Linked DNA regions of Homo sapiens. The protein of the gene in region 1 purifies or fractionates together with the protein of each later gene. This does not show direct contact. Each region holds a gene or a part of one and is shown in the gene's direction. Other genes may lie near its edges. The genes, in order: LSP1, CAPN2, ZMYM6 and PLEKHG3.

Evidence for each region.
Region 2: the proteins of LSP1 (region 1) and CAPN2 purify together in Homo sapiens (affinity purification with mass spectrometry; 2 studies listed by BioGRID and IntAct, with this or other methods). This does not show direct contact.
Region 3: the proteins of LSP1 (region 1) and ZMYM6 purify together in Homo sapiens (affinity purification with mass spectrometry; 2 studies listed by BioGRID and IntAct, with this or other methods). This does not show direct contact.
Region 4: the proteins of LSP1 (region 1) and PLEKHG3 purify together in Homo sapiens (affinity purification with mass spectrometry; 2 studies listed by BioGRID and IntAct, with this or other methods). This does not show direct contact.

The regions. Positions count from the first base shown.
Region 1 is NC_000011.10:1,884,061-1,891,083, forward strand, and holds part of LSP1 (lymphocyte-specific protein 1), read left to right. Parts: intron 1-219; coding exon 220-263; intron 264-439; coding exon 440-521; intron 522-2,671; coding exon 2,672-2,806; intron 2,807-3,176; coding exon 3,177-3,254; intron 3,255-3,413; coding exon 3,414-3,503; 3' UTR 3,504-3,516; intron 3,517-3,926; exon of another isoform or gene 3,927-5,084; coding exon of another isoform or gene 5,085-6,524; exon of another isoform or gene 6,525-7,023. Other genes in the region: PRR33 (proline-rich protein 33), read right to left, coding at 5,085-6,524. UniProt on the Homo sapiens protein: May play a role in mediating neutrophil activation and chemotaxis.
Region 2 is NC_000001.11:223,743,524-223,750,546, forward strand, and holds part of CAPN2 (calpain-2 catalytic subunit), read left to right. Parts: intron 1-576; coding exon 577-695; intron 696-1,782; coding exon 1,783-1,916; intron 1,917-3,473; coding exon 3,474-3,642; intron 3,643-5,515; coding exon 5,516-5,599; intron 5,600-7,023. UniProt on the Homo sapiens protein: Calcium-regulated non-lysosomal thiol-protease which catalyzes limited proteolysis of substrates involved in cytoskeletal remodeling and signal transduction. Proteolytically cleaves MYOC at 'Arg-226'.
Region 3 is NC_000001.11:35,007,929-35,014,951, reverse strand, and holds part of ZMYM6 (zinc finger MYM-type protein 6), read left to right. Parts: intron 1-63; coding exon 64-255; intron 256-2,370; coding exon 2,371-2,521; intron 2,522-2,946; coding exon 2,947-3,062; intron 3,063-3,915; coding exon 3,916-4,194; intron 4,195-4,354; coding exon 4,355-4,505; intron 4,506-6,027; coding exon 6,028-6,200; intron 6,201-7,023. UniProt on the Homo sapiens protein: Plays a role in the regulation of cell morphology and cytoskeletal organization.
Region 4 is NC_000014.9:64,728,406-64,735,428, forward strand, and holds part of PLEKHG3 (pleckstrin homology domain-containing family G member 3), read left to right. Parts: intron 1-590; coding exon 591-688; intron 689-1,837; coding exon 1,838-1,907; intron 1,908-2,236; coding exon 2,237-2,283; intron 2,284-2,393; coding exon 2,394-2,544; intron 2,545-2,632; coding exon 2,633-2,764; intron 2,765-2,955; coding exon 2,956-3,138; intron 3,139-3,308; coding exon 3,309-3,401; intron 3,402-3,689; coding exon 3,690-3,776; intron 3,777-4,021; coding exon 4,022-4,055; intron 4,056-4,397; coding exon 4,398-4,496; intron 4,497-7,023. UniProt on the Homo sapiens protein: Plays a role in controlling cell polarity and cell motility by selectively binding newly polymerized actin and activating RAC1 and CDC42 to enhance local actin polymerization.

The DNA.
Region 1 (7,023 bases):
CTCCCGTACTCATACCCAAAAGGCCAATCCCACATGCCAGCCACAGGAAGACCAGGCCCAGGCCTGGCTTTTGTCTGCTATCCCCCCATTGCCCGGTGCTCAGCGAACCCCCATGATATAAGGGTTGGGGGTTGGATTAGTGGTTGGAGTAGCTGGGGAGATGGAGGGTGGGCTTTACCTCGGCTGCTGCAGGCCTGTGTCTCTCTCCACCCTCTGCAGCTCATCGACAGGACCGAGTCCCTAAACCGCTCCATAGAGAAGAGGTCTGTCTGTCTGTCTGTCTGCTTTCTGGGCTCAGATCTTAGGTTTAACCAAGTGGGGGTTGAAGGGAGTCACAAGGTAGAGATCTGGAGACCGAGGGGGGCTCTGGGAGAGGCTTGGGCAGGTTGGGAGAAGCCTTGTGGGAGACATGGGGCCTGACACATCTTCTACCCTCCAGTAACAGTGTGAAGAAATCCCAGCCAGACTTGCCCATCTCCAAGATTGATCAGTGGCTGGAACAATACACCCAGGCCATCGAGGTATGACCTGGCTCCCCTCTGCTGTCAGGTCCCTCCTGCATCCTGGCACCATTCCTTCATCCAACCAACGCCCTTCCATCCAATCAGTGCCGCCTTATTCAACCAACACCCTATCCAACCAATGCTTCTCCATCCAGTCAGTGCCCCTCTACCCAATCAATGCCCCTCCATCTAATCAATGTCACTCCATGTAATCAATGCCCCCCCTTTCAATCAATGCTACTCCATCCAACCAATAATCTCCCATCCTATCAATGCTTCTGCATCCAATTAATGTTCCTTTATACAACCAATACTCCTGCAACCAATACTCCTCCAATTATTCAGTGTTCCTCCATTCAATCAATGCCCCCCTCGGAACAGTACTCCACCACCCAATCAATGCTCTTTCATCCTATCAATGCTCCTCTATCCAGCCAATATTCCTCCAGTCAATCAATCCCCCTTTATCCAACCAGTACTCCTTAATCCAATCAGTGCCCCTCCATCCAATCAAGATTCATCCCTCCATCCAATACTACTCCATCCAATCAGTGCCTCTGCATCCAATGTCCCTCCATCCAATCAATGTCCCTCCCATCCAATCAATTCTCCTCCATCCATCAATGCTTCTCCATCTGACCAATACCCTCCATCCAACCAATACTCATCTATCCAATGAATGGCTCACCATGTAACCAATGCCAGTCCCACATGCCAGCCCCTCCATTCAATCGGTACCTCTCCATCCAATCATCCAATACTCTTCCATCCAGTCAATGTCCCTGCATCCAACCAATAGTCCTTCATCCACCAACTCCCTTCAATCCAACCAATACACCTTCATCCAATCAATACCCCTATTCATTCAGTGCTCCTCCATTCAATCAATTCCCCTCCAGCCAACCAAAACAACTTCATCCAGTCAATGCCCCTCCATCCAATAATGCCTTGCACCCAATCAATGGCCTTCTATCCCATCAATTTCCCTCCATCCAACCAAAATAGTTTCACCCAATCAATGCCTCTGCTTCCAATCAATGCCCTTCTATTCAACCAATACTTCTTTATCTAATCAGGACATCTCCATCTAACCAGTATCCTTCCATCCAACCAACACTCTACTAAATCAGTGCCCCTCCATCCACCCAGTGCCCCTCCATCCACCCAGTACTCACTTATCCAACAAGCACTCCTCTATCTTACCAGTATTCCTCCATCCAATCAGTGCTCTTCTATGCAATTAATGCCCCTCCATCCATACTTTACTCCTTCACCCAATCAGCGCCCTTCTAGTCAAGCAATACTTCTGATTTCAATTAATCCCCCTTCAACCAACCAATACTCCTCCATCCAACCAGTACTCCTCCATGCAATCAATGTTCCTCTATCCAACCAACATCCTTCTATCCAACCAATATTCCTCCATCCAATTAATGCCTCTCCATCCAACCAGTACTCCTCCGTCCTATCAATGCTCCTGTATCCTATCAATATTCCTCCATCCAACCAATACTTCCCCATCCAATCAATACTCCTTCATTCATTCACTGCTCCTCCATCCAGTCAATACCTTTCCATCCTACCAGTGCCCCTCCATCCAACCAATACTCCTTTATCCAATCAACGTCGTTGCATGCAATCAATGCCCCTTCATTGAACCAATACGGCTCTATCCAACCAATACTACTCCATTCAATCAATGCCCCTCCATCTAACAAACACTCCCTCATATAATCAGTACTCCTCCATCCAATCAATATTCCTTCATCTATCAACACCTTTCTATACAACCAATACTCCTCCATCTAATCAATGCTCCTCCATCCAACCAATACTCTGAAATTTAACCATTGTCCCTCTATCCATTCAATGTCCCTCCATCCATCCCATGGTCCCCCAGCCCTACCCCATGAGGAGCATGGAGGCAGACCCACATCTGTCCTGTGCGCCATCATCTCCCTGATGCTCTTCAGGACAGGGAGGTGTCTCACAACTGCATCGAATGGAGGAAGGCTCATCTTTCCAGTGATCCCCACTCTGGGGCTGCATTGGGAAAGCGCTCCCAGGGAAAACACAAACACAAAGCAGACGGTTGCCCAGTGTGACCCTCTGATGTGACCACGGTGGCTGTCCACTAAGGTAATCCTGATGCTTTTCCTCCTCTGCAGACCGCTGGCCGGACCCCCAAGCTAGCCCGCCAGGCCTCCATAGAGCTGCCCAGCATGGCTGTGGCCAGTACCAAGAGTCGGTGGGAGACGGGTGAGGTACAGGCTCAGTCTGCGGCCAAGACTCCGTCCTGCAAGGTAAGGTCCCCTCCAGGGGCAAGGCTGGGCTGCAGAGCCAGCGCCTGGGAGTTTAGTAGCAGGCCGGGTTTCCTTGTTAAGACAAGCATGGGACTGTCCAGGATGAATGTGGGTATACAGAACCCTGAGGTATTGCAGTAGGGTTGGGTTCACCCTTGCTGGTGTAGAAGGCTGTGTTGTCCGAGTGGAGGTAGATGGCACCTTTATTCCTTTCCCTGCCTCTTCCACTGGGATCACACAGAAAAAGTTTAGGTAGGCAGATCCCAGGCCCCCTGGCCAGGTAAGGCAAGGCGGGAGAGAAGGGCCCAGGGCTTCTACTCCCCAAGATCCAGGGGTCTGCCCTTGTGACATACCCTTCTGCTGCCCCCAGGATATTGTGGCTGGAGACATGAGCAAGAAAAGCCTCTGGGAGCAGAAGGGAGGCTCCAAGACCTCATCAACAATTAAGGTAGAGCCTAAATGTGGTTGGTGCAGGCAGGGTGGGTGCAGCAGGGGAGGGCAAAGAGGGACTGTCCTCTGTGCATCTGGGAGGGCTTCCCAGAGGCGGAGGCAGCATCATCTCCTTTCTGCTGCTCTCACCTTCACTCTTGGTCTCCTTTCCCAACAGAGCACCCCATCTGGGAAGAGGTATAAGTTTGTGGCCACCGGGCATGGGAAGTATGAGAAGGTGCTTGTGGAAGGGGGCCCGGCTCCCTAGGCGTCCCATCTCGGTGAGTCCCTGGCAACTCACAGAAGGGGATGAGGTGCACACACGTGCACTGTGCTGGGAACTTGGCAACCTGGAGGCTGCCTGGAGCCCTGTTGCAGGCTACAAGGGTGGACTCCGAGTTGGCCAGAACCCAGACCAGCTCAGTCTCCCAGTCCTGTGCAGATGCTGCCTCTCTCACCTGATACCAGATTCAAACTCTCTGCTCATTTCACTAGAGTCAGCCCGGCTCAGCCACTGCTCCACTAGGGAAGCTCAAGGCTCCCATCTGGGACTCCCCAAAAGCCACAGCAGGGCTCGTGAGGGAAGTGAGGGGCAGCCTGGCCACCACAGGGCTAGCATTGAAGGAAGCAGGTGGCATGGAGCCCAGGTTCCCTGACCATCTGTATGCTGAGGGTCCATAGAGGGGCAGGAACTTAGGTCCTACTCCCTGTCCCAGCCGAGAGCGATTCAGAGGTCCTGATGCCCTCCCCATCCCATGCTGCAGACAGAGCAGTGCCACTCCTGCCATGGTGAGACACACATTTATTAGTGACCTGGGCCCCAGGCTCCATTTCCAGCACCCATCACACCACAGGGTGGGGCAGCTGTCCTCCTACCATCTTCCCCTGCCAAACCCTGACTCTCAAGCAGCTGTGGCAGAGGCTTTTTCTGGTACCTCTGTGTCCCTCTCCTGTGGTTGGCCACCCCCACCAGAGCCTGGCTGACTGCTGAGTAGGCCCCTCCACTCTCCCCACCAGGGCCACAGCCCCTTCTCTGTCCCGCTTGGCCAAGCTGTTCCCATAGGGTTGGGACTGAGGGCTCCCTCCTCATCCAGCTGTCAAAGCCTGGGCATGGCCAGTGCTGAGACCCTCGCTGTCCCACCAGCGAATCCCTCGAGTTCTGCCCCCTCAGGCTGTCAGCCCAGGTAGGGGAAGCAGAGGTGGGCCGAGAGAGAGGTCACGCTGGGCCCTCCTCCACCCCTGATGAGCCCCTCCCTGCCTGCCCCTGAGCACTTGTATTGGTGCCAAGTCCCACGCTGGCTGAGGGCTCCCCCCTGCACCCTAGTCCCAGGATCTGGCTCTGCCATCAGGAAGCACAGGCAGCAAAACTGCTGACTGCTCCTGACGCCGATGGCCAAGCCAGCCTGACCGCACCCATGCCTCAGCAAGCAGAGATCTGGCCCCAAACCTTTGACAGCAAAAGGTGACAGCAAAAGGGAGGATCAGTGAGAGGCCCAGGCCCCTGAGGAGCCTGGGCTAGGTCAGTAGATGCAGTCCTCTGCCATCTTACCTAAAGTTTTCATCCCAAGGCCCCCATCCTACATCCCGACGCAGACCCCTTCTCTGTTCCCCTCACACCACTGCAGCCCAGGGGCTCCAGCTCGTCCTCTCTGCCCCGTCCACCTGACCACCCTCCTAACCATGCAGACTTCCCTCAGCACCCCATGTGCCCTTCCCAGGCTGCCCTGCACCCCATGCCCCTTGGGCCCTGGTGCATCTTCATGCAGCAACTATGGGCCCCCAGCTAGAGCCTCAGCCCCTTCTTCTGTCCATCCCATGGTCCTGGGCTCTGGGGGCCATTCTGGCCACTTCACTGGAGCCTCCAGCCAGTCGCTGTGCGGTTGAAGTTCTTGGGCTGGGGGCTCAGCTCCAGGATGGAGCGGACTGTGGGAGGGGGCCGGGTGGCCTCCTGCAGCTTCCGGGCGTTGAAGCGAGGCCGGTACAGGAAGGGCAGGCGGGTGAGGCTGGCTGGGGTGTGCTCCCCACCGCTGGGCCCTGCCAGGCGCCCTTGGGCCTCCGCCACTGACATGCGGTACAGCACGGCATCCCACATCCTGGAGGTCCGGGAGGCGGGGGCCCGGGGTGCGGTGAGGGCGGGCACCTCCTGCTCTGTGGGGGCAGGCACCTCCTGCTCTGTGGGGGTGGGCACCTCTGGCTCCAGGCTCTGCCGCGGCTCTGGGCACGGAGGCTCTGGGGCCTCCTCCAGCAGCTGCTTCTTGAGCCACGTCCAGCCACTGAGCCGGGGCTTGGGTGCAACTTTGGGGACAGGGCATGGGTGAGGGCCTGATGGTGGGGTAGGGGATGAGGCCCAGGCAGGGCTGGACACTCGCTCGGCCTCAGCGGCGGGGCCAGCCATCGGGGGCTCCTCCAGGTGCTCTCTGCCAGGGCCCATGGGGACCAGGCTGTGCGGTGAGGACTCCAGCGAGCGGCAGGTCGGGGCTATGGGCACCACAACCCTGGCACTAGCCTCTCTGGGCACTGAGGCCTGGAAGCCGGGTGGCGGCCGTGGTACAGGGGGCTCCTCAGGCAAGGGACTGGCAGCCTGGACTGTGGTGGGCAGTGGGCGGATGTGAGCCACTGGGACCAGGGGCTGGGCCCTGGGGGGACTTGGGGTGGCATCTCCATCCTGGCTGTTGGATCCCACTTCTGGGGCTGTCCTGGGAGGCTCAGGGGTCCCATTGTGTGGGGATGGTGCCAGCTGGATGTGCACCTGGGTGACGTGGGTGCCCCCACCCCCAGAGACAGGGACGAAGCCACTGGGGGGCCGGGTAGGTTCTGGGGCCGAGGCTACAACCTGGGGCCCCATGGCCCTGAATTGAGCAGCTAGAATCCTGCGCTGGGTGAGGCCGATGGAGAACGTGGACTTCTGCAGGGGTGATGCCACGTGGTGGATGATGGGGGTGTGCGGGGAGCGGGGTAGGGCAGCCACCATGCGGGGAGCCTCGGCGGGGCGTGGGGCTTCAGGAAGGCGTGGGGCTTCGGCGGGGTGCGGGCCCTCAGCAGCGTGCGGGGCTGTGACCTCCTGGTCATGGCTGGCCTCACTCACGGGGGACAGGGAGGTGCGGAAGGCCCTGGGTGGAGCGAGGTGTGTGCCTCCCATCATCTTCTTCCGGGCTGCCTTCCTCAGGAGCTTCTGCAAACGCAAGTTGTCCTTCCCTGGCTTGGGCAGCAGGGGCGGTGGGGGTCCAGGGGTTCCCTGGAGGCTTGGGCCGCACACCTCGGGTGCCATCGACGCAGCCGATATGAGCATGACTGTGTCCTAGGGTGGGAGGGACAGTGGTCAGGCCAGCCCTCCTCCCTCCTGAGGTGGGAGGCCTGTGTCTCCTGTGGTCCAAGGAGGACCTGGGGCCAGGGGTGTGGAGGCCTGAGTATTCTGCTTCCTGAGCACCCAGAACCTGCCAGGGACATGCTGAGCTCGACTGTGCCTTGGGGACTTTGGGGTGGCCCCACCATCACCCTAGTGTAGAAATGAGGCCACAGAGGCCGAGTCCCTCCAGGGATGGGGCTAGAACCTGCCTCCAGGGCTCTGTCCTCCATGCCACCCCAGCACAAAGCAGGCCCCAAGTACACAGCCTGGGTCAGGCCGCAACACCGTGTGGGCTGGGGTGGGAGACGGAGACGCGGGTGAGCCCCAAGTGACAGGCATGCCCCTGGCCAGCTGCTGGCCAAGCCCAGGGCTGGAAGAGCGGCTGCCCCCAGACACGTGAGGGGCGCCCTGTTGTCGCCGGCTCAACCACAGGCGCGTCCGC
Region 2 (7,023 bases), on another chromosome or scaffold:
CTCTGTTGCCCAGGCTGGAGTGCAGTGGTGCAATCATGGCTCACTGCAGCCTTGAAATCCTGGGCTCAAGGGATCCTCCTGCCGCAGCCTCCCAAGTATTCGTATTATAGCTGGGACTCCAGGTGTACGCCACCACACCCAGCCCAAACTCCCATTCAAAGCCTGTGTGCTCAGAAGCCTCTGCAGCTGCGCTGGTTTCATTCTCTCACTGTGGAGCATCTGCTGCGAATCAGGTGCAAGGCTGGGCTCTGAGGGCACAGTTCAGCCACCAGAGTTCTGGGTCTTTCAGGGAATGAAATTTCCCATCTCTGCCCAACCACAACACAGCAAAAACATTTCTCCCTTTGCATTTCCCTCAAAATACTAGGTTGGTGCAAAAATCACAATTACTTTTACACCAACCTAATAGCCCCCAAACCCTCTGACCCAACCCTCATATGGGGGACTGCCTGAAACTTCACTCTGTCTATTCACAGGTTGTCTTAGGCTTTAAGCCCCTGGAGGTGGAGACAAGATTTTTAACATCCTCCTGGTTCTAAGACCCTCTGATAAGAGCTCCTTGTGCTGTGTTCACAGGTGACTGCTGGCTGCTGGCAGCCATTGCCTCCCTCACCTTGAATGAAGAAATCCTGGCTCGAGTCGTCCCCCTAAACCAGAGCTTCCAGGAAAACTATGCAGGGATCTTTCACTTCCAGGTAACTTAATGGTTGGCTCAGGTGGTTCCTCAACAGGTCCAGGGGGCTAGGAACAGTCTTCTGGCTTGGCTGGGTTCATCAGTCCCTGGTGTTTGCAGACTCCCAAGACCAATACTGTTCTACAAAGGACATTGGGCGAGAGCAGGAAGCTTCCTGGCTTACCCGTGGCCAGGATGTGAGACCCGGCTGGGATGGCCCTGGGTGGTTTCTTGGGACATGTAAAAGGGAGGTAGAGCAAGGTGTTCAGGAACTAATTCCCAAGTTTAAAAAAAAAAACTGTATTATTTGATGTTTGAGACAAAAACGTTGAAGTTCTCCTCCTTTTATGCCGGTAAATGAGAAATAATACTTGAAAAAGCTGGCTGGGCACGGTAGCTCATGCCCGTAATCTCAGCACTTTGGGAGGCCGAGGTGGGCAGATCATTTGAGGTCAGGAGTTCGAGACCAGCCTGGCCAACATGATGAAACCCCATCTCTACTAAAAGTACAAAAATCAGTTGGGCGTAGTAGTGCAGGCCTGTAATCCCAGCTACTTGGGAGGCTGAGGCAGGAGAATCACTTTAACCTGGGAGGCAGAGGTTGGGAGGCCAAGGTGGGTGGATCACTTGAGCCCAGGAGTTCGAGACCAGCTGGGGCAACATGCTGAAACTCCGTCTCTACTAAAAACACAAAAAAAATTAGCCGGGTGTGGTGGCACGTGCCCTTAATCCCAGCTACTCGGGAGGCTGAGGCAAGAGAATCACTTGCATCCAGGAGGCAGAGGTTGCAGTGAGCCGAGATCGTGCCACTGCACTCCAGCCTGGGCAGAGCAAGACTTGGTCTCAAAAAAAAAAAAAAACAGCCTAAGGTACAGGGCAGAATGCTAAAGAGGCGGGTGTGGATTTGAAAGGATGGACATGCGCCTCTGTCTTCGCTTTTTTAGTGAGGACTTGGCCTGCATAGGAGAGTTAAGGGAGCACCTCCTCCCAGGATGCGCTCATGGAACCTATCCCAGGGGATCAGGGCAAGGGGAGCCAGAGGCAGCTGAGGCTCAGAGTCCCAGTGCTGCCACCAGCTCCTCCTGCAGCCCACCTCTCTTGTTCTGCAGTTCTGGCAATACGGCGAGTGGGTGGAGGTGGTGGTGGATGACAGGCTGCCCACCAAGGACGGGGAGCTGCTCTTTGTGCATTCAGCCGAAGGGAGCGAGTTCTGGAGCGCCCTGCTGGAGAAGGCATACGCCAAGTAAGTTGCCATCCTCCCCTGGCCCCATGGCCTTCCCCCAATGCCCTGGATTCCAAAAAATTCACTCATGCCTGTAATCTCAGCACTTTGGGAGGCCGAGGTGGGTGGATCATTTGAGGTCAGGAGTTCGAGACCAGCCTGGCCAACATGATGAAACCCCGTCTCTACTAAAAATATAAAAATCAGTAGAACTACTCCAGGACTACTTTGAGTGGGAAGTCCTTTTCTATAGAAGGACTTCTTTGGCCAAAATTAGGCTCTAAATGCAAGGAGATAGTGCATGCAGGGTGCCTGGCTGCACTGTACGCTGATAAATGATGTCTATCACCATCTTTAACCAAATGCACAGGAACAAGTTATGGTACTGATTGTGCTGGACTTGAGAAGGAGCTCTACTTCCTTGACAGGACACATTTGTATCAACTTAAAAAAGCAGAATTTTTGCCAATGGGCAGAACTATTCATTGCAGAGGTAGGAAACTTGCCCAGAATAGATGATGTCACTGATTAGCAATGGCTTCCCCATCTCCGCACAGCTGCTTCCCACCCAGGTTGCCCACAGTTGAGTTTGTCCAGTGCTCAGGGCTGCCCACTCTCAGTAAGAAGCCCCACACCAGCCCCTCTCCACAATGGCCCCATGTTGGCTGTGCCGCCCGGCTCCTTCCATTAAAGTGACCCCACTTTAGAGCAGCAAGTGGATTTCTGTTTCTTACAGTCCCAATCCAGGAAGGAGGAGTCAGCTGTGAGAACCTGGAGCCTGACGGATGCTTCTAAGTCCCACTGCTCAATACTGGGGTCAGGGAAGCCACCGGACTCCAGCATCAGCAGTCAGGAGCACTAAGCCCTTGCCAACACCGTGCCTGTTTCTCAGAGAAACTGCTTCCATTATTGAATGGTTGTCCTTTTTTAAGCTATCAATGCCAAACGACCCATTAGTAGACCTCCCCTTTCTTGTCAGGATGTAGAAGGAATCAATACAGGAGGTTCATCCAGAAAATCACTAAGGTCCTTCCGACTCTAAGGTTCTACGAGAATCTTTTTTTTTTTTTTTTTTTTTAATACGGAGCCTCATTCTGTCACCCAGGCTGGAGTGAGCGGCATGATCTCAGCTCACTGCAATTTCCACGTTCTGAGTTTCAGCAATTCTTTTGCCTCAGCCTCCCAAGTAGCTGGGACTACAGGCATGCACCACCATGCCCAGCTAATTTTTTTGTATTTTTAGTAGAGATGGTGTTTTGCCATGTTGGCCAGGCTGGTCTTGAACTCCTGACCTCAAGTGATCCGCCCACCTCGGCCTCCCAGAGTGCTGGGATTACAGGCATGAGCTACCGCGCCCGGCCTGAGATTTTCTTTAAAACACAAAATACCAGGGAAATGGTAACTGTGGACATTATACCTTGCCTTCCTGAGCACCCCGAGCTGGGAACAAGGCCAAGGAGAATGTGAGCAGGGGGTCCCTGGAGCATCAAATCTAGACGGTACTAGGGGGTGGCTGTTTGAGAGATTATAGCATCAGTAGTGTCAAGGGTAGCGGCAGCGTCTAATCCCCTCTTGTAGGATCAACGGATGCTATGAAGCGCTATCAGGGGGTGCCACCACTGAGGGCTTCGAAGACTTCACCGGAGGCATTGCTGAGTGGTATGAGTTGAAGAAGCCCCCTCCCAACCTGTTCAAGATCATCCAGAAAGCTCTGCAAAAAGGCTCTCTCCTTGGCTGCTCCATCGACGTAAGTCCAGGCTGCCTTCCCTAGCCTCACCCCATCTGCTCTTGCTGAAGGGAGGCTCCCACAGTGCCCAAGGGAACCCACTGCTCCTGTGTACAACGTAATGCAGCCCTCGTCCACGTAGGGGCCAAAGGAAAACCTCCCTCCACCCTCTGAAGGTCCGCTGAAAATCAACTGGCAAAAGGAAGACTAATACAAGAAATGGCATACAAATGTATGAATGTGGACAGGGGAGAATCACAAGAGATTTCCCTACCACGCATTGGGATACAGAGGGTTATATTCCCTTCCTCTTAGGGGAAGGGAGATGGGGAGGTGCGGATGATTTTAGGGATGTCGTAAATGATTTTTAGGGGAATTCATTGGGCTTAAAGAACATAAATGGTCTGGGATAAAGTCTGTTGGGCCTGCAGAGCAGACAGTGGTTTGTGACAAGTCTGTCTAGCCATGTTGACAGACTTGTCTTTCTTCCTGCAATATGAGTTCAGTTCATAATAACTCATGGAAAGGACCAGACGTCATTGTTTTCATCTTTGGCAGGTCCAGACTTTAGGCAGGTGAGGGAACTTCAGAGAATAGCTTCCTCCTGTGCTTTGGGGGAGAGTGGATCGAGAGACAGAAGGAAAGGGGAGGTCAGAGAGATCTTGAGGCTTCTTCAGTTTAGCATTTCAAAGTGCCATCTCTTAGAGGTATTGGTTTCTGAGCACCCCAGTGTCTACCATTATTGCTCATCACCTGGAAGCCAAGGGTTGCTAGGCAAAAGTCAAGCTGTCTGGGGTGTAATGGATGGGGTGATGGTGCCTCCAGCCCTTCTGTCTTCAGTCCACTTCCCACTCTTAGCCTGCTCTGAATCACCCCCACCCCTCTGACCACAGGTTCCCTGGGAGCCCCTGCCACCTGCTGCCCCTGCCACCTTCCCCTCCATCTGCAGTGCTGTGCAGCCTTCCCCTGCACTCTTGCAGAGCTAATAGGCCCGTGGGAGACTTCGGAAGGAAGAGGAGGAAAGATTTCCTCATAATAGCCTTGCTGGCAACGCTCACCAGGGGATGGGAGGTGGGCACTGTGCCCAGGAGCCTTGGAGCAAAGGCTGTGCCCAACCTCTGAGCCCTGTCCCATCCAGGTTCTGGTCTCTGCGGGGGACAGAGATAAGAAGCCCTGGCTTTTGGAGCCAAAATCTAGGTCAGACTCCCTAGGCAGGAATTCTCAAAGTTTATCAGCAGAACACGTTGAGGCAGAAGACCCTTTCTGCTCCAGCCCTTCTTCCCAGGCTCAACCTTCATCAGAATAGATAGGGGAAAGGAGAGGCTGTGAGGCGTTCTTAAAACAGAAGCAAATTCTGACTCAGACCGGAATAAACAACCGTCCTAGTATAAACCCTACAGCTGGGCTGGGCCAGACCACGGAGCATGGGCTGGTGGTGGGGCGAGGGTGTGCTCAGTGTCCCTGGGCCACTCAAGGCTGTCTGGGTATCAGCCCTGCGCCATCGAGGACCCCCTCCGGCCCTCTCTCGGCCGTGCGCCCTTTCCCTGCGCCATCGAGGACCCCCTCCAGCCCTCTCTCGGCCGTGCGCCCTTTCCCGCCCTTCCCAGCCTGCAGAAATCCGTGGATGCGCTATTCACACGGGAATGCCTGTGCTCGTTCCGCGAGAGGGTTGCATTCCGCCTTTTCTCTGGTATTCTCGGCGTTCAAGCATTTGAACGGGGTAGGAAAGGTTCTCCAAGTGCAAGAAAGCGCAGCCCTGAGCCTCCCACCCCAGGCCTCGGCCGCTGCGCTAGTGCGTCCGGCGGTCCCGCCCGGCAGTAGGACAGAGGGAGCGAGGGAGTCCGGGAGGAAGGGAGAGCGGGTGCGGCCAGTCTGACGGTTGCTGTGTTTGCAGATCACCAGCGCCGCGGACTCGGAGGCCATCACGTTTCAGAAGCTGGTGAAGGGGCACGCGTACTCGGTCACCGGAGCCGAGGAGGTAACGGCCGGCGCGGATGTGCAGGGGTCCTGCTGTCCTGACACGATGGCCACAGGCACAGTTTGTGGTGATGCCCAGGGGCCCGCGCGGCCCCACGGTGGTCCAGTTTACACTCGGGCCCCGCACTCCTGAAGTTCCGCGCGGGAGGAGAAGGGCGTCCCTTTCGCAGCTCGGGCGCCGGGTGCGCCGCGCTGCCACCTGGTGGCCGCAGTGGCCGGCGCCAGGGGCCCTGGTTTTACTTGTTTTAGATGTTACCCTGTTTTACAGTTACAACCTTACTATTTTGATAAGCTAAAAATAATAAAACAATGCATCTTCATAGTGTTTTATACTCTATAAGGTGCTTTCTCTTTTGATCTCGTAAAAGTATTCGTGCCCATGTTCAAATCTGACTGCCTCTTACCAGCTGTGTGGCCTGGGCCAATTACTGGAACTCTCTGTCCCTTAGTTTCCTCATTTAAAAAATGGAAATAATGATAATATCCATTGGAAGGTCGTGGCGATTCAATCAAGTTAATATATGTAAAGTGCTCAGAGGTGACTCACACATCATATATAAGGAGGTAGCTGTCCTTGCTGTTGTGATCACTGTTGTTATTGAAAATATTATGGGCTGACATGGTGGCTCACACCTGAAATCCCAACACTTTGGGAGACCGAGGTGGGAGGATCACTCGAGCCTAGGAGTTCAAGACCAGCCTGGGCAACGTAGCAAGAACCTGTCTCTACAAAAAAAAGTTAGCTGGGCATGGTGGCATGCCACTGTCGTCCCAGCTACTCGGGAGGCTGAGGTGGGAGGATCACTTGAGCCCAGGAGGTCGAGGCTGTAGTGAGCCATGATCATGCCATTGCACCCCAGCCTCAGCGACAAAGTAAGACCATGTCTCAAAAAAAAAATTATCAAGCAACTCAAGTTCACTGTTAATTACAGAACCCAGTCTAGACCGCAGATCTTCTGCATGTCCAGTGTTCTTTTTTTAACCTTGATTTTTTTAACTACCCCCTCACACACACACGTCTTTTTATTTGAAAATTTTCACGTATACAGAAAAGTTGAAAGACTAACATAATAACTATCCAATTGCCACTCCCCTAGATTCACCGATTGCTAACATTTGCCATGTCTGCTTTATCTATGTGTGCACTTTTTTTGAGCCATATGAAAGTAAGTTGCAGACGTTATGACACTTCCCTCCTCAATACTTCAGCATTTATTCCCTATGAATAAGGACATTCTGTTACATAATTCCTCTACTGTTGCCACACCTAAGAAAATAACATTAATTCAGTAGTGTCATCTATTATAAAGTCTATACTAACATTTTCCCAGTTGCCCAAAATGTCCTTTCTGGCGACCCACCCCAACCCCATCCAGGACTCAATCCAGATTCACTCACTGCATGTGCCTGTTATCACCAGTGATC
Region 3 (7,023 bases), on another chromosome or scaffold:
AAGAGATTTTTTTTTAACTGGCTCTGCTTATTTTGTGTGTGTATGTGTGTGTTTATTTCCTAGACTCGATTTGAAGTTAAATATCAAAATGTGGTACATGGTCTTTGTAGTGATGCCTGTTTTTCAAAATTTCACTCTACAAACAACCTCACCATGAACTGTTGTGAGAACTGTGGGAGCTATTGCTATAGTAGCTCTGGTCCTTGCCAATCCCAGAAGGTTTTTAGTTCAACAAGTGTCACGGCATACAAGCAGGTATGAATATCTATTTGTTGCATGTACTTAGGCCCACTCCTTCTGATTTGGCTGCACAGGGATGAACTACAAAATGAGAGTGAGCTCCTCCCATTAGTCCATCCTGATATGTGATTTCCCTTCCAGAAAATGGGATAGATTCTGATGGTGTGAGGGATGATTGTGGTGGTAAGTTGATATAGGTAAAATAGGTCCCTTTTTTAAGGCTCCCTTCATAGCTAAGAATTTACAAATGTGATTTCTTTTCTTTTTTTGAAATCGAGATAGGGTTTTGCCATGTTGCTCAGGCCGGTGTTGAACTCCTGAGCTCAAGCCATCCACTCGCCTCAGCCTCCCAAAGTGCCGGGATTACAGGCATGAGCAACCACACCTCGGCCTCATAAATGTAATTTCATGATTTTCTGTGAGCATGAAATATTTTGTGATGTATTGATAGCAAGAAAACCATATTATAAATAAACCATAAGCAAGAGTTAAGATGATAAAATCAGTGAATCTAAACAAAGCTTGTCTTTTTCATTTCAAAATGTGTTTGGGAATGAATTGTAATTATTTGGTCAACACTGTCTCATGAGAATACTTCAAGTAATTTTATTTATTGTAATGAATAATGGATTAAGCCGGTTACTAAATATTATCACCTTGTGTCAATTTAATTATTACTAATTTGTGGTTTTAAAAAGTTTTTCTTAAAGAAGTATCTTGTAAGGCCGGCGCGGTGGCTCACGCCTGTAATCCCAGCACTTTGGGAGGTCAAGGCGGGTGGATCACGAGGTCAGGGGTTCGAGACCAGCCTGACCAACATGGTGAAACCCTGTCTGTACTGAAAATACAAAAATTAGCTGGGCGTGGTGGCGGGCGCCTGTAATCCCAGCTACTCAGGAGGCTGAGGCAGGAGAATTGCTTGAACCCGGGAGGTGGAGGTTGCAGTGAGCTGAGATTGTGCCACTGCAGTCCAGCCTGGGTGACAGAGCAAGACTGTCTCAAAAACAAACAAACAAACAAAAAAAAAAAACAAAGATGTATCTTGTAAATGATAATTAAACTTTTTTTCAGTTAGCAAGTTTGATTTGTTGCTTCCTTTGAGCAGTTGGTAATGGACATATGGACATTCATCACTGAAAAGAATCTCTTTTTTTAAGATTTGCCATTTTTGGCAGTCTGGTTCTACTTTCACAGGAAAAGAATCCATGTTATTTTATATATGATCCCAAAATCAGTTCCATTTCTAATTTTGTTACTAGTATTGTACTCTGTCTTTTTACTAGGAAGATTATGTAGTGAAACCTCACAATTTATATTTTCCTACAATTTCTTTTCATATTGAGAGACCTTATAATGTATCACTGACAGCATAGTGTAGTGGTTAGGAGCCTGAACTTTGGAGCCTGATGAAATGAGTTTAATTTCCTACTTCTTCTGCTCATCTGTTAATTTAAACTTTTTGTTAATGTAATTTTTGAGAGCGCCTCACTCTGTTGTTGAAAGGTTTCTGTGATACACTATATATAAATTTCTTAGCCTGGGGCCTGACTCATGGTAAGCATTCAGTAAGTTATAATATTGGTTATGTAAATGGTAGCTATTTTTATTATTTCTTAAAACATGAATAAACTTATAAGCAGATTTTATTATGAAACTCAGCTTGAAAAATAGGTAGTTGTGTAGGATCTCTATTAATATACATTAAATATCATTTCTATCTCCTGCTAAAGAATCTCACAAATTAAGTAACCTTAAAGGTGGTAGACTCTTCTAGATTGATGTACAAGACTATACCAAGAATGACCCTTTGGTTCATGGGTTAGCTGGTCTTCTCTGGTTATTGGTGATTAAAAAGTATGTAATGACTATTTAATTCATTACTTGTGTTTGAATTCATGTGTTTTGTTTGCTAAGATCTCTATCTGAATAGTTACTAATTTTCTTCAGTTTCTATTTTATTGTTGTCTGGAAGAACTTATTTTCCCACCTCCCAATAGTGTGGTTTCATCATCATGCTCAAATATTTCAACCAAGGACCGTGGTTGTAGGTAGCTTTTCTTTTTACTTTTTTGAACAATATGTAAATATGTATGTTTGTACTAGGTATCTAATGTTATTTTATTTTAATAGAATTCTGCCCAAATTCCTCCATATGCCCTGGGGAAGTCATTGAGGCCCTCAGCTGAAATGATTGAGACTACAAATGATTCAGGAAAAACAGAGCTTTTCTGCTCTATTAATTGCTTATCTGCTTACAGAGTTAAGACTGTTACTTCTTCAGGTAATGTTTAAATTTGATAAATTTATAGATTTAATAACTATTGAAGAAAAACGTAACTGCTTTTCTCTGATTTTGTTACAAGCTAAATTTATCTATTTAGTTAAATAAAAACCCAAGACTGACTTTTAAATAACTGACTTTTATGTGAAAATAGTTTTTCCCCGATTTTCTTGGTTGCAATATATACAGTATTTTATAATTTCATATGTGAGAGGAAAGAAAAAACACTTAAAATTTCCAAGTTAGTTTTTGTGTAAGTGGGACTTAATAGAGGTTAGTTGTGGTTAGATTTCAGATTTTTATAAAGTTCCTTGATTTTTTTGGTATATTATTGATTATTTAATTTTTTCATTCTCCCAATACATTTTTGTATTGTTTGTTCATTGGTATAACTTAATCATTGTTTTTAATTTTTTGTCACCAAGGTGTCCAGGTTTCATGTCATAGTTGTAAAACCTCAGCAATCCCTCAGTATCACCTAGCCATGTCAAATGGAACTATATACAGCTTCTGCAGCTCCAGTTGTGTGGTTGCTTTCCAGGTATGATCTAAGGTAGCACATTATGCATGTGGTTCTGTTAGGCATCGATCTGTGGCACAGTGTTAACTGCTGAAGGCCTGTTCTTATGAAAGTTTAAATTTGAATTAAAAAGAAAAAAATTTGTTTCATCCAGGGGCCCAACCAGGTCATTTCTACAAAATATCTGAACCCAGATATTGGGTCTCAGCAGTTTCTTCTTTATTTAGGATCCTAGCCTAAACTGTCATTCCCTCCCACTTTCTCCCTTGGGTCTCTCCCCTTCAAAAAGATGGAAGCTAGGATTGTGGTTTGGGTAGGTGGTATGGTGAAGAACAGTAGCCTGATGGGATTCACATACCCCTTCCTCTCATCCTGTGTCAGAAACACAGTGACTCCTGGCATGGAATTGTAAGCATCCACTTGTCCCATTTTCTCCTCCCTCTCTGCAATACATACACAAAGAGTAGAGTTTAGTAATCTCCAGGGTAGGAACATGCCTGATGTAGTATCCCTGGCATTAGGGAGAAAGAGACTGCTGGTAGCTATTGTGTCGTAGTAGCCATCAGAAGCTGGTTGATGATGGGAGTGCAGGTAGGGGGAAGTTTTAGGGGGAAGGAGAGGCCTGCTCTAATTTATTAGAGGCATATACTGGAGGTCTTTGTCAGGAAAGCCTGAATTCCAGTCCTTGACCTTTTAATGTTGTATTTCTCAGTCCTTTTATTCTGGAAATATACCATTTAAACTCTTTCTGTGAGATAGAAAATTTTAAAAAATGTTTGTGGGAGACTTGATTTATTAAAATGAGGAAATGAAAAGTACAAAGTTATCTTATTTCTCAGTTGATAAAATCTTTACCTTATTTGTTTTCATTCAGAATGTATTTAGCAAGCCAAAAGGAACAAACTCTTCGGCGGTGCCCCTGTCTCAGGGCCAAGTGGTTGTAAGCCCGCCCTCCTCCAGGTCAGCAGTGTCAATAGGAGGAGGTAACACCTCTGCCGTTTCCCCCAGCTCCATCCGTGGCTCTGCTGCAGCCAGCCTCCAACCTCTTGCTGAACAATCCCAGCAAGTTGCTTTAACCCATACAGTTGTTAAACTCAAGTGTCAGCACTGTAACCATCTATTTGCCACAAAACCAGAACTTCTTTTTTACAAGGTAAAGAGAGATCATGAAAGGGATTGTATATAAACTCATCCAGTAGAAACACTTTTGTGTTTTCAATTTTGATCACTCAATTTGCTTTGACATGAAAAGGAGTTCTTAAAGATAAAGCAACTGTTTAGTTGGCTCTTAATGGACTGTTGTTTCTCTGCAGGGTAAAATGTTTCTGTTTTGTGGCAAGAATTGCTCTGATGAATACAAGAAGAAAAATAAAGTTGTGGCAATGTGTGACTACTGTAAACTGCAGAAAATTATAAAGGAGACTGTGCGATTCTCAGGGGTTGATAAGCCATTCTGTAGTGAAGGTAAAGACAAAGTTGTTTTATTCACAGAGCATGGGTTGTTATAATTCATGACGACTTGGGCAATTAAGCCATGATTAGTTTTCACATTCTTTTTGTCTTACAAGGTGTAATTAGAAGTATTTTGGAGGCCGGGCATGGAGGCTCACGCCTGTAATCCCAGCATTTTGGGAGGCTGAGGTGGGTGGATCACTTGAGGTTGGGAGTTCAAGACCAGCCTGACCAACATGGTGAAACCCCATCTCTGTTAAAAAACACCGTCTCTATACAAAATTAGCCGGGCATGGTGCCGCACGCCTGTAATCCCAGCTACTTGGGAGCCTGAGGCAGGAGAATTGCATGAACCTCAGAGGCAGAGGTTGCAGTGAGCTGAGATCATGCCATTGCACTGCAGCCTGGGCGACGAGCGAAACTCTTGTCTCCAAAAAAAAAAAGGTTTTTTTGAATTGTGTTTATAGTTAATTCACTTTAAAGTCAATCTTTTTATTTATTATTTTTGTTTGTTTATTTTTTTGAGACAAGGTCTTGCCCTGTCACTCAGGCTGGAGTGTGGTGGCATGATCTTGGCTTATTGCAGTCTCTGCCTCCCCGGTTTAAGGGATCCTCCCACTTCAGCCTCCCAAGTAGCTGAAGCTACAGGAGCGTGCCACCATGCCTGGCTAATTTTTTTTATTTTTGGTAGAGACGGGGGGTTTCACCATGTTTCCCAGGCTGGTCTTGAACTCCTGAGCTCAGGTGGTACTCCTGCCTCGGCCTCCCAAAGTGCTGGGATTATAGGCGTGAGCGACTGTGCCTGGCTGAAAGTCAGTCTTTTTAAATGTTGCAGTAATTGCAATAAAAAACTGTAAAAATGATTACATCAGTGGTATTAATAAAGAAAATCTCTTCATAAGTTTAGCTATGACATCAGAGATCTTTTTGTTCTTGCACTCATTTGCGAAGAGGAACTTAAAACAGTTGCTGCTTCTTGGCTTAAAAAACTTTTATACCTCTAATGTTTCTGAATATAAATGGCCTAATATTTAGAGTATATTTAAAAGGTGGTGGCAGGGCGCAGTGGCTCACGCCTGTATTCCCAGCACTTTGGGAGGCCAAGGCGAGCCAGATCACCTGAGGTCAGGAGTTTGAGACCAGCCTGGCCAACATGGCGAAATGCCATCTCTACTAAAAATACAAAAATTAGCTGGGTGTGGTGGCAGGTACCTGTAATCCCAGCTGCTCTACTCAGGAGGCTGAGGCAGGAGAATCGTTTGAACCTGGGAGGCAGAGGTTGCAGTGAGCTGAGATTGTGCCACTGCACTCCAGCCTGGGCAAAACGAGTGAGACTCTGTCTCAAAAAATAAAATAAAATAAAAGGTGGTATGAGTTTGGTTTGTGAATATAGAGACTGTCCTGTAATCTAGAGGCAAATAATTGTGTATTAGAAATTAGCTTAAAGTTTCATATCTAAGACCACAGAAACTTATTATACCTCCTCAGTTAATGTAAATTTGATTTTTCTTCCTTTCATCCCTCTGATCCTCAGTTTGCAAATTCCTCTCTGCCCGTGACTTTGGAGAACGATGGGGAAACTACTGTAAGATGTGCAGCTACTGTTCACAGACATCCCCAAATTTGGTAGAAAATCGATTGGAGGGCAAGTTAGAAGAGTTTTGTTGTGAAGATTGTATGTCCAAATTTACAGTTCTGTTTTATCAGGTAAATGTGATAATATACTTTTTTTGGCTTTCTGAAATCAGTGCAAATTGTTTTTATTTAAAATGTATTCAAATTATGTGAAGAAAAATTTGGTGTTTAGCACTGGATAAAATAAGTTATGGGCTATAATAGAAAAATTCAATTGAATATAAACAGGAAATCTTTGGGATAAAAAGTATAGGATTTCTGCAGACTTTGTTGTTGGTTGGATATGTTCCTTTTATTTTTGCCTTCTTATGAGGCACTTTGCCCTTATTTGACTTCTTTCAGGTTAGAACTTCACATAATGTTGCCTGAAGTGGCTCTCTCATTCAGGTTACTCTGAGGAATTTGAAGTTAGACCTTGTCTCACTTCATAGGTCAAAGGACAATAGCTGGCAACCATTCCTACCTCATTTTTAAAAAGATTAACTTTTTGAAAGGCTAACAATGGTAGCTACAGTTAATTGAACCACTAATACATGTCTGGTGCTCTGTAAGTGTCATTTCATTTAATCCTTACCATAGTCCCAAGAGGTAAGTATATTACTGCCATTTTATAAATAAGGAAAAGGAGAGAGGTCCAGGGAAGTTAAGTAATATGCTCTTGAGGAAGCTGGTAGGTGACAGCAAGACAGCATCTATAACACTCTGGTAAATCACTGTTTGTTTTTCTACCTCTAAAAAAATAGAATTTTATTGTTGGGGGAGGGTAATATATTTTTCATGATTATATAATTAGGGCCAATCACAGTGCTTAAGACAAAGGATGTCTAATTAAATATTTGCTGAATGAATCAAAATCTTTATGACTCCAAAGCCCATATTATATCAACTACTGTAA
Region 4 (7,023 bases), on another chromosome or scaffold:
TGCCACTGAGGAAGCCCTCTGCCCCACTGGCTCAGGGCGTGGATTAGTTTCCTAGGGCTGCCTTAACAAATGACCACACACTGGGTGGCTTAAAACAGCAAATGTGTTCTCACTCAGTTCAGGAGGCCAGAAGTCCAAAAATCAATGTGTTGGCTGGGTTGGCTCCCTTCAGAGCCTCTGAGGGAGTAGGCATTCTATGCCTGTCATCCAGCTTCTGGGGTCCTGGCAGTCTTTGACATTGTTGGCCTGGAGATGCGGCCCAGCACCTTCCCATCACCTTTTTCTTTGTGTCTCTCTGTGTCCTCCTTCTCCTCTTATAAGGACAGCAGCCACTGGATTTGGGGCCCACCCTAAATCCTATCTGAAGTCATCTTGAGATCCTTAACTAATGGCATCCACAAAGACCTTATTTCCAAATAAAGTCACATTCTGGGGTTCCAAGTGGACATGAATTTTGGGGTGGACACTGTCTCACAGTAGGCAATGTCCGTGAAGTGGTGTTACAGCAGGGCCGAAACGAGGTGTGGCTAGGGAAGGTAGTGGGCAGGGTTGTGCCGGGGGCTAGGTTCTGACCACCTCCCTCCACGCAGGACTACCTCTTGAAGATCATTGACACACCCGGGCTGCTGAAGCCAGAACAGGTCAGCGCCCTCTTTGGGAACATAGAAAATATCTACGCGCTGAACAGGTGTGTGAATGGGCCTGACACTCACCATGTTCTGCCTGCGAGGCCCACCTCAGGGCCTAGGGAGGAACCCTGGATGTCCCTGGTCTCATGGGCCTGTGACATGTGGGCCTGGGGCCTGATCTCTGAGGACAGGGAAGGGTTGTCCATCTCTGTGCCCTGGGCTGATCTGCTTTCTCTCAAGGGCAGACGGGGAGGTAATTTGAGGTTGTGTGCATGTTGGGTCCATCCTGAGCCGGTGCCCCCTCAAGGGGCTGCTGGGCCCTACCTTGCACACTGGTTCTCTTCCCTGTGGAAGAGAACCTTCCCTGTCCTTCTCATCTTCATTTTCCATTTGCACATCTGTTAATTTCTTATCCTCCTTTCCACTGACCCCAAGGGCTCCCTGGAGATGATCTGACCTATTAGTGGATTGCACAACCCAGGCAAGACACATGTGGGAAGCCAAACAAGGCCTGACCAGGGGCTGTGTCAGGGCAAAAGGCATGGGTCTCCTGCCTGGGACCACAGACTCCCCCGGGAAAGTGCACTGCTCTGGAGGGGCAGGGCTTGAGGGAACAGCGGTGCTAGGACAGGAAGAATCGTATCCCAGGCCCCTTAAGATGGGCAGAGGGAGCTCTGGCTGTGTAAGCTGGAGAAGTCTGGGAGGGCAGGGTGCAGGGAGGACTTAGGCCAATGGTGAGGGGTTGGGAAAAGAGGAGGAGCACAGAGGGAGGAGGCAGGGAGCAGTGTTTCTAGGGGTGCCAGGACTCACCTGTCTCTCCCCATGTCCCACATCCTGGGCGCCCTGGCTCCTTTGCTAGTCCCCATTCTCTCTCCTTCACCCTTTAATCCTCTGCTTTTGTGTGTTTGACTCCTTCTGCCTGCAGAGGAGCTGTGTCCCCTCCCGAGGTGGGTATGGGGGTCCCCTCTTCATCTCCCTCTTGTTGAGCCTGTAGGTCTCCCTGACTTCCTGCTTTGTGGCTGCTTTGTGTTGGATACTTTCTGTGGTTGCTGCCTGGGGCAGGACTCCCTCTGAGGCTAGAAGCCCCAGTTCTTTAGCAAAGCAATAGGGCTGGCTGTCAGTCAGGGTTTGGGAGGTTGGGGAGGGGGCAGTGAGGGGCATTGTCCTCTGACTGCAGAGGGTACAGTGGCTGCTCTCCCCTCACCCAGCCAGCTCCTCAGAGACCTGGACAGCTGCAATAGTGACCCCGTGGCTGTGGCCAGCTGCTTTGTGGAAAGGGTAAGAAGGGCTGGGTCCTTGCCTCTGTCCTACCTTGCTGAGAGCTCAGAGAGACAAGAACTGCCAGCATAAGAGGACATCTGAGTCCTGGGGATTCCTTTCCAGGGAAAGTCCTGGGTGCTCTATCTTGAATGAGAAGGGTGTTCTGAGGGGAGCCAGGGCTGCTGGGTGGATGGGATGTCCTTGACAAATAGGTATAAAGATGGCTCTGTAGGCATTTGGGAACAGGGGACAGAGGGTGCTCTGGGGGCCAGGGGCCTATCTGCTACCACCATCTTTACTGTCAAATGAGAATCTCCCTGAAATCACTATTTTTGATCTCTTCTTAGAGCCAAGAGTTTGATATCTACACTCAGTATTGCAACAATTACCCCAAGTGAGTAATTGGGGTGAGAGGGAAGGCAGAGCCATTTGGTGAGTCCAGAGCCCCCCACTTCCTCATCCAGGCCTTCCCCAGGTGGTGACTGGCCCTTCTCCCACTCCCAGCTCCGTGGCCGCCCTGACGGAATGCATGCGGGACAAGCAGCAGGCCAAGTTCTTTCGGGACCGGCAGGAGCTGCTACAGCACTCGCTGCCCTTGGGCTCCTACCTGCTGAAGCCAGTCCAGCGCATCCTCAAGTACCACCTGCTGCTCCAGGTAGCCCCTCGGTCCTCCCAAGCACCTAGGGCCTGGGGAGGGCAGGGCCTTCGGGTCAGGGGCACCTAAGCGTCTATCTTCTGCGCAGGAAATTGCCAAGCATTTTGATGAAGAAGAGGATGGCTTTGAGGTGGTGGAGGATGCCATTGACACCATGACCTGTGTGGCCTGGTACATCAACGACATGAAGAGGAGGCATGAGCACGCGGTCCGGCTCCAGGTGCTCTGGGGCTGGGACGCTGGGGGAGGGGCAGGGCTGGGTGGGCCAGGCTTCCGCTGGGAAGAGGGACTGTGGCCACCCTGCTGGGATGAGCTGGGCAGTGGCATTGGGGGAGCCTTTGTGGCAGGGTTTGCAGAGCCTCCTAAGGCCCCAGTGGCCTGACTCTAGGGATTGGGGCCCCTCTGCTGCAGGAGATTCAGTCACTCCTCATCAACTGGAAGGGGCCCGACCTGACCACCTACGGGGAGCTTGTCCTGGAGGGCACATTCCGCGTGCATCGCGTGCGCAATGAAAGGACCTTTTTCCTCTTTGACAAAACACTGCTTATCACCAAGAAGCGGGGCGATCACTTTGTCTACAAGGGCAACATCCCGGTAACCAGGCCCTGCCCCATCTCCTCTGCCATCTTCTCTCCTTCCCAAAGGATCTGGGCTCCCCTTCTTGTCTGCTTCTTGGGGCTCCAGCACCACCCTTCTGAGATCACCCTCCCTGCTTCCCCAGGCTGTCAACCTTGTGCTTGACTGTCCTTTCCCTCTGCCCCTAGTGCTCCTCCCTGATGCTGATCGAAAGCACCAGAGACTCCCTGTGCTTCACTGTCACCCACTACAAGCACAGCAAGCAGCAGTACAGCATCCAGGTGAGGGGAAGGTGGGGCTCAGGGGCTAGGGAACAAGATGCCCAGGGGACACCTGCGTGGGACTCCTGGCTCCTCTGCTCACCTAGCTGCCCCAAGCCCCAGTGTCTCCATCTGTGAGGCAAGGATCATTGCAGGCACCTCTCAGGGTCAAAGTGAGGAGTCAGGTTAACCTCACAGAGGCCCCAGCATGGCCCCACTTTTTCTCCCTGGGTGGAAGCACTGTCCATGCTAGACAGCTTCAGGCCTGTAATGATAACCACTGGGTCCCTTTCCCTTGGGTCCTCCCAGGCCAAGACAGTGGAGGAGAAACGGAACTGGACTCACCACATCAAGAGGCTCATCCTAGAGAACCACCATGCCACCATTCCCCAGAAGGTGAGTTCCCCCAGCTCCTGACTGTGTGCAAGGAGAATGTGCTCCTCTGAGCCAGCTCTGCAAGGTCCATTGGGGGCTCACCTTCTGGATTTGGGCTCCAGTGGACAGTGAGTGTCAGTACAGCAGATGCCCCGGGCCTTGGTGCAGCACTGTGGGGTGTCCTCGTACAGCAACAGTGGGTCCTATGGGCAGGGAAGGCCGGCACATGGTAAGGTAATAACCAGGTGTGTTTCCTTCCCCTTCAGGCCAAGGAAGCCATCTTGGAAATGGATTCCTATTGTAAGTGTACCCTTTTCTGCCTGTTTTGTCCCTAATCGTGCACATTGCTAGGTCAGGCTGCATCCTGGGGAAGCTTTACCTGATAATTTTATTCCAGGAGCAGGGAGGGCGGGGGTCTCCTGTTAAGGGCTGGGGGGTGAACTACATGATTAAGGATGCTCTCCTGCTGAGCGGTGGGACTCTCAGTGCCTGAAGCTCCCAGCTGGAAGATGGAGGGAGCTCTGGAGGCTCCTGGCCCTGGAGCTGGGTGGGTATAGAGGTCTGGCTGGTTATGGACAGGGTCTAGGGTAGGCCAAGGCCAATTGGGAATCAAAAGCTTGATCGTCTCTCTCCTGGGTGCAGATCCCAATCGGTACCGCTGCAGCCCAGAGCGGCTGAAGAAGGCTTGGTCCTCCCAGGATGAGGTGTCCACCAATGTGCGCCAGGGGCGCCGGCAATCTGGTAAGAGAAGGGCTGTGGAGGCAGGAGGCCTCTCCCTCACACCCTTGCCCAGACTGGGGACCGTCTGCGGCAGTGTCCAGGGCTGTGGCTCTCACCTCTGCGGAAACCCTGGGAAAGGCTAGAGCGGGGCTGGACACACACCTGGGGCTCATCCTCTCCCTGTGCTGGTGCTCCCCACACCAGGTACCCCTGGGCCCTCGTTGCCTACCAGGTCTGGAGCCCACCTTTTTCTTACTTTTTTCTTTTCTTTTCTTTTCTTTTTCTTTTTTTTTTTTTTTTGAGAGATGGAGTCTTGCTCTGTTGCCCAGGCTGGAGTGCAGTGGCTCGATCTCGGCTCACTGCAACCTCTGCCTCCTGGGTTCAAGCGATTCTCCTGCCTCAGCTTGCCAAGTAGCTGGGACTACAAGCGTGCACCACCACACCCAACTAATTTTTGTATTTTTTAGTAGAGATGGGATTTCACTATATGTTGGCCAGGCTAGTTTCGAACTCCTGGCCTCAGGTGATCCGCCCGTCTCGGACTCCCAAAGTACTGGGATTATAGGTGTGAGCCACTGTACCCGTCCAGCCCACCTTTTTCAAGGCCCTAGGAATACTTGCTCGCTCCGGCCTTGGCACCCCTTCTTAGCCCCCTCCCTCCTTTGCCTCTCTGGAATACCAACACCAAGTCATTCAGGAGTGACACTTGGACATGGCGGATGGGCCCAGCCCAGTCCTGGAACAACCGAGCAGAAGCAGGACCCGGGGAAAACGAGTTCAGTGGCACCAAACCCAGACAGGAAATATTTATTTTGGGTCTCAGGAAAAGGTTCCATTTTCCTCCCTTGAGTTTTCTTCCATTCCTGGACTTGCTAGGGTGTTCTTGGATTATTGGAATGAATCGTCTATTTGAAAAGAGAAAACCTTGCTTTTATTCTAAACTCCGTGGTGATGGGTGTGTGTGTTTTCAAAATTGGTTTTTTCGTTGCTATTTAGTGCAAGGCCCAAGGACAGGTCTGGCTTAAGCCAGGTGTCTGCCAAACATATACCCAAGGTGGGAGTTGGGGTGAGAATTGTCTTTAAGACCCTGGGAGAGAAGGATTCTAAAGTGACTGAGAGTGGTGTCCTGGCTTGGGTCCCACAGATGTGTTGGGTTTTGATTGGTGATGACCTGTGGGTCCCCTGAATGTGTGTGTGGATTGACATGTGGGTGTTAGCCTTCGAGAAGGTGGAGCAGTGGCTTATAGAAGGCTTTTGTGGTTTTATGTTGTTGGTATTGCTCTGGGTGGATCTTGAGCCCTAGGCCACCTTGCTATGGTTGCAAAAGTTTTATGGTTTTTATAGTTAAAAGCTCCAAATAGGGGTGTTGCTTTCTTCTCTCTAGCCCTCTTTCTTTTCTCTTCTCTTCTCTTTTCTTTTCTTCTCCTGTAATTCTCTTCTTGTCCTCCTCAACTTGCCATACCTTAAAATTTGAAGCTTCTAGCACACTGATGTGTTCAGCAAGTGATAACGTTGGTGGTAGTGATAGTAGCTCTATCCTAGTGTTAGCATCGAAACTTTAGCTATGGATGTACAACTCTTTGAATATACTTAAAGCCGTTGAATTGTACACTCTAAATAGGTGAATTGTATTTGAATTATATTTCAATAAAGCTGTTACAAAAAGCCCCCAAACTTTAGGTGTCCAAGGCACTCAGGAAATGAGCCATTTTAAAGAGCTGAAGTTTCCACATGGCTGAGATTTTTAGCCTGTAAATACTAAGAGTTGGATTTTTTCAAAAAATATTTAAAAAATGTTTTAACAGTTATGAAATTCCCTCCCTCCCTCCCTCCCTTCCTTCCTTCCTTCTTTCCTTCCTTCCTTCCTTCCTTGTCTGTCACCCAGGCTGGAGTGCAGTGGCACCATCTCTACTCACTGCAACCTCTGCCTCCCGGGTTCAAGTGATTCTCCTGCCTCAGCCGCCCGAGTAGCTGGGATTACAGGCACGCGTCACCACGCCCAGCTAGTTTTTTTTTTGTATTTTTAGTAGAAACAGGGTTTCACCATGTTGGTCAGGCTGGTCTCGAACTCCTGACCTCAGGTGATCCACCCGCCTCGGCCTCACAGAGTGCTGGGATTACAGGCATGAGCCATCCCGCCTAGCTGAAATAGACATCTTTCTAAAGCATGTTTTGTACTCTTGAGCCTTTTAAAACAGAAGGTGCTGGCCACCGTTGAACCTTTCCTTTTCTGGAGTTAATGCTACAGCATCACTTAGGGTGTGTGAACTGCCAGATGCTTGAGGGGCCCCAGAGGCTGTGGGTTGCCATAGAGACAGCCTGTGTTTGGTGTGTCGTGCCCCTCTTCACGGTTCTTCTGTAACACTGAAGTATTTGTTTTCATTGGTCTAAGTATGCTTGTCTGTAGTAGCCCTTCTTCCCCTCCTGTCTGTTAGAAAGCGATCGTTCAGGCCAGGTGTGGTGGCTCACTCCTGTAATCCTAGCACCTTGGGAGGCTGAGGTGGGAGGATCACTTGAGTCCAGGAGTTCAAGACCAGCCTGGACAACA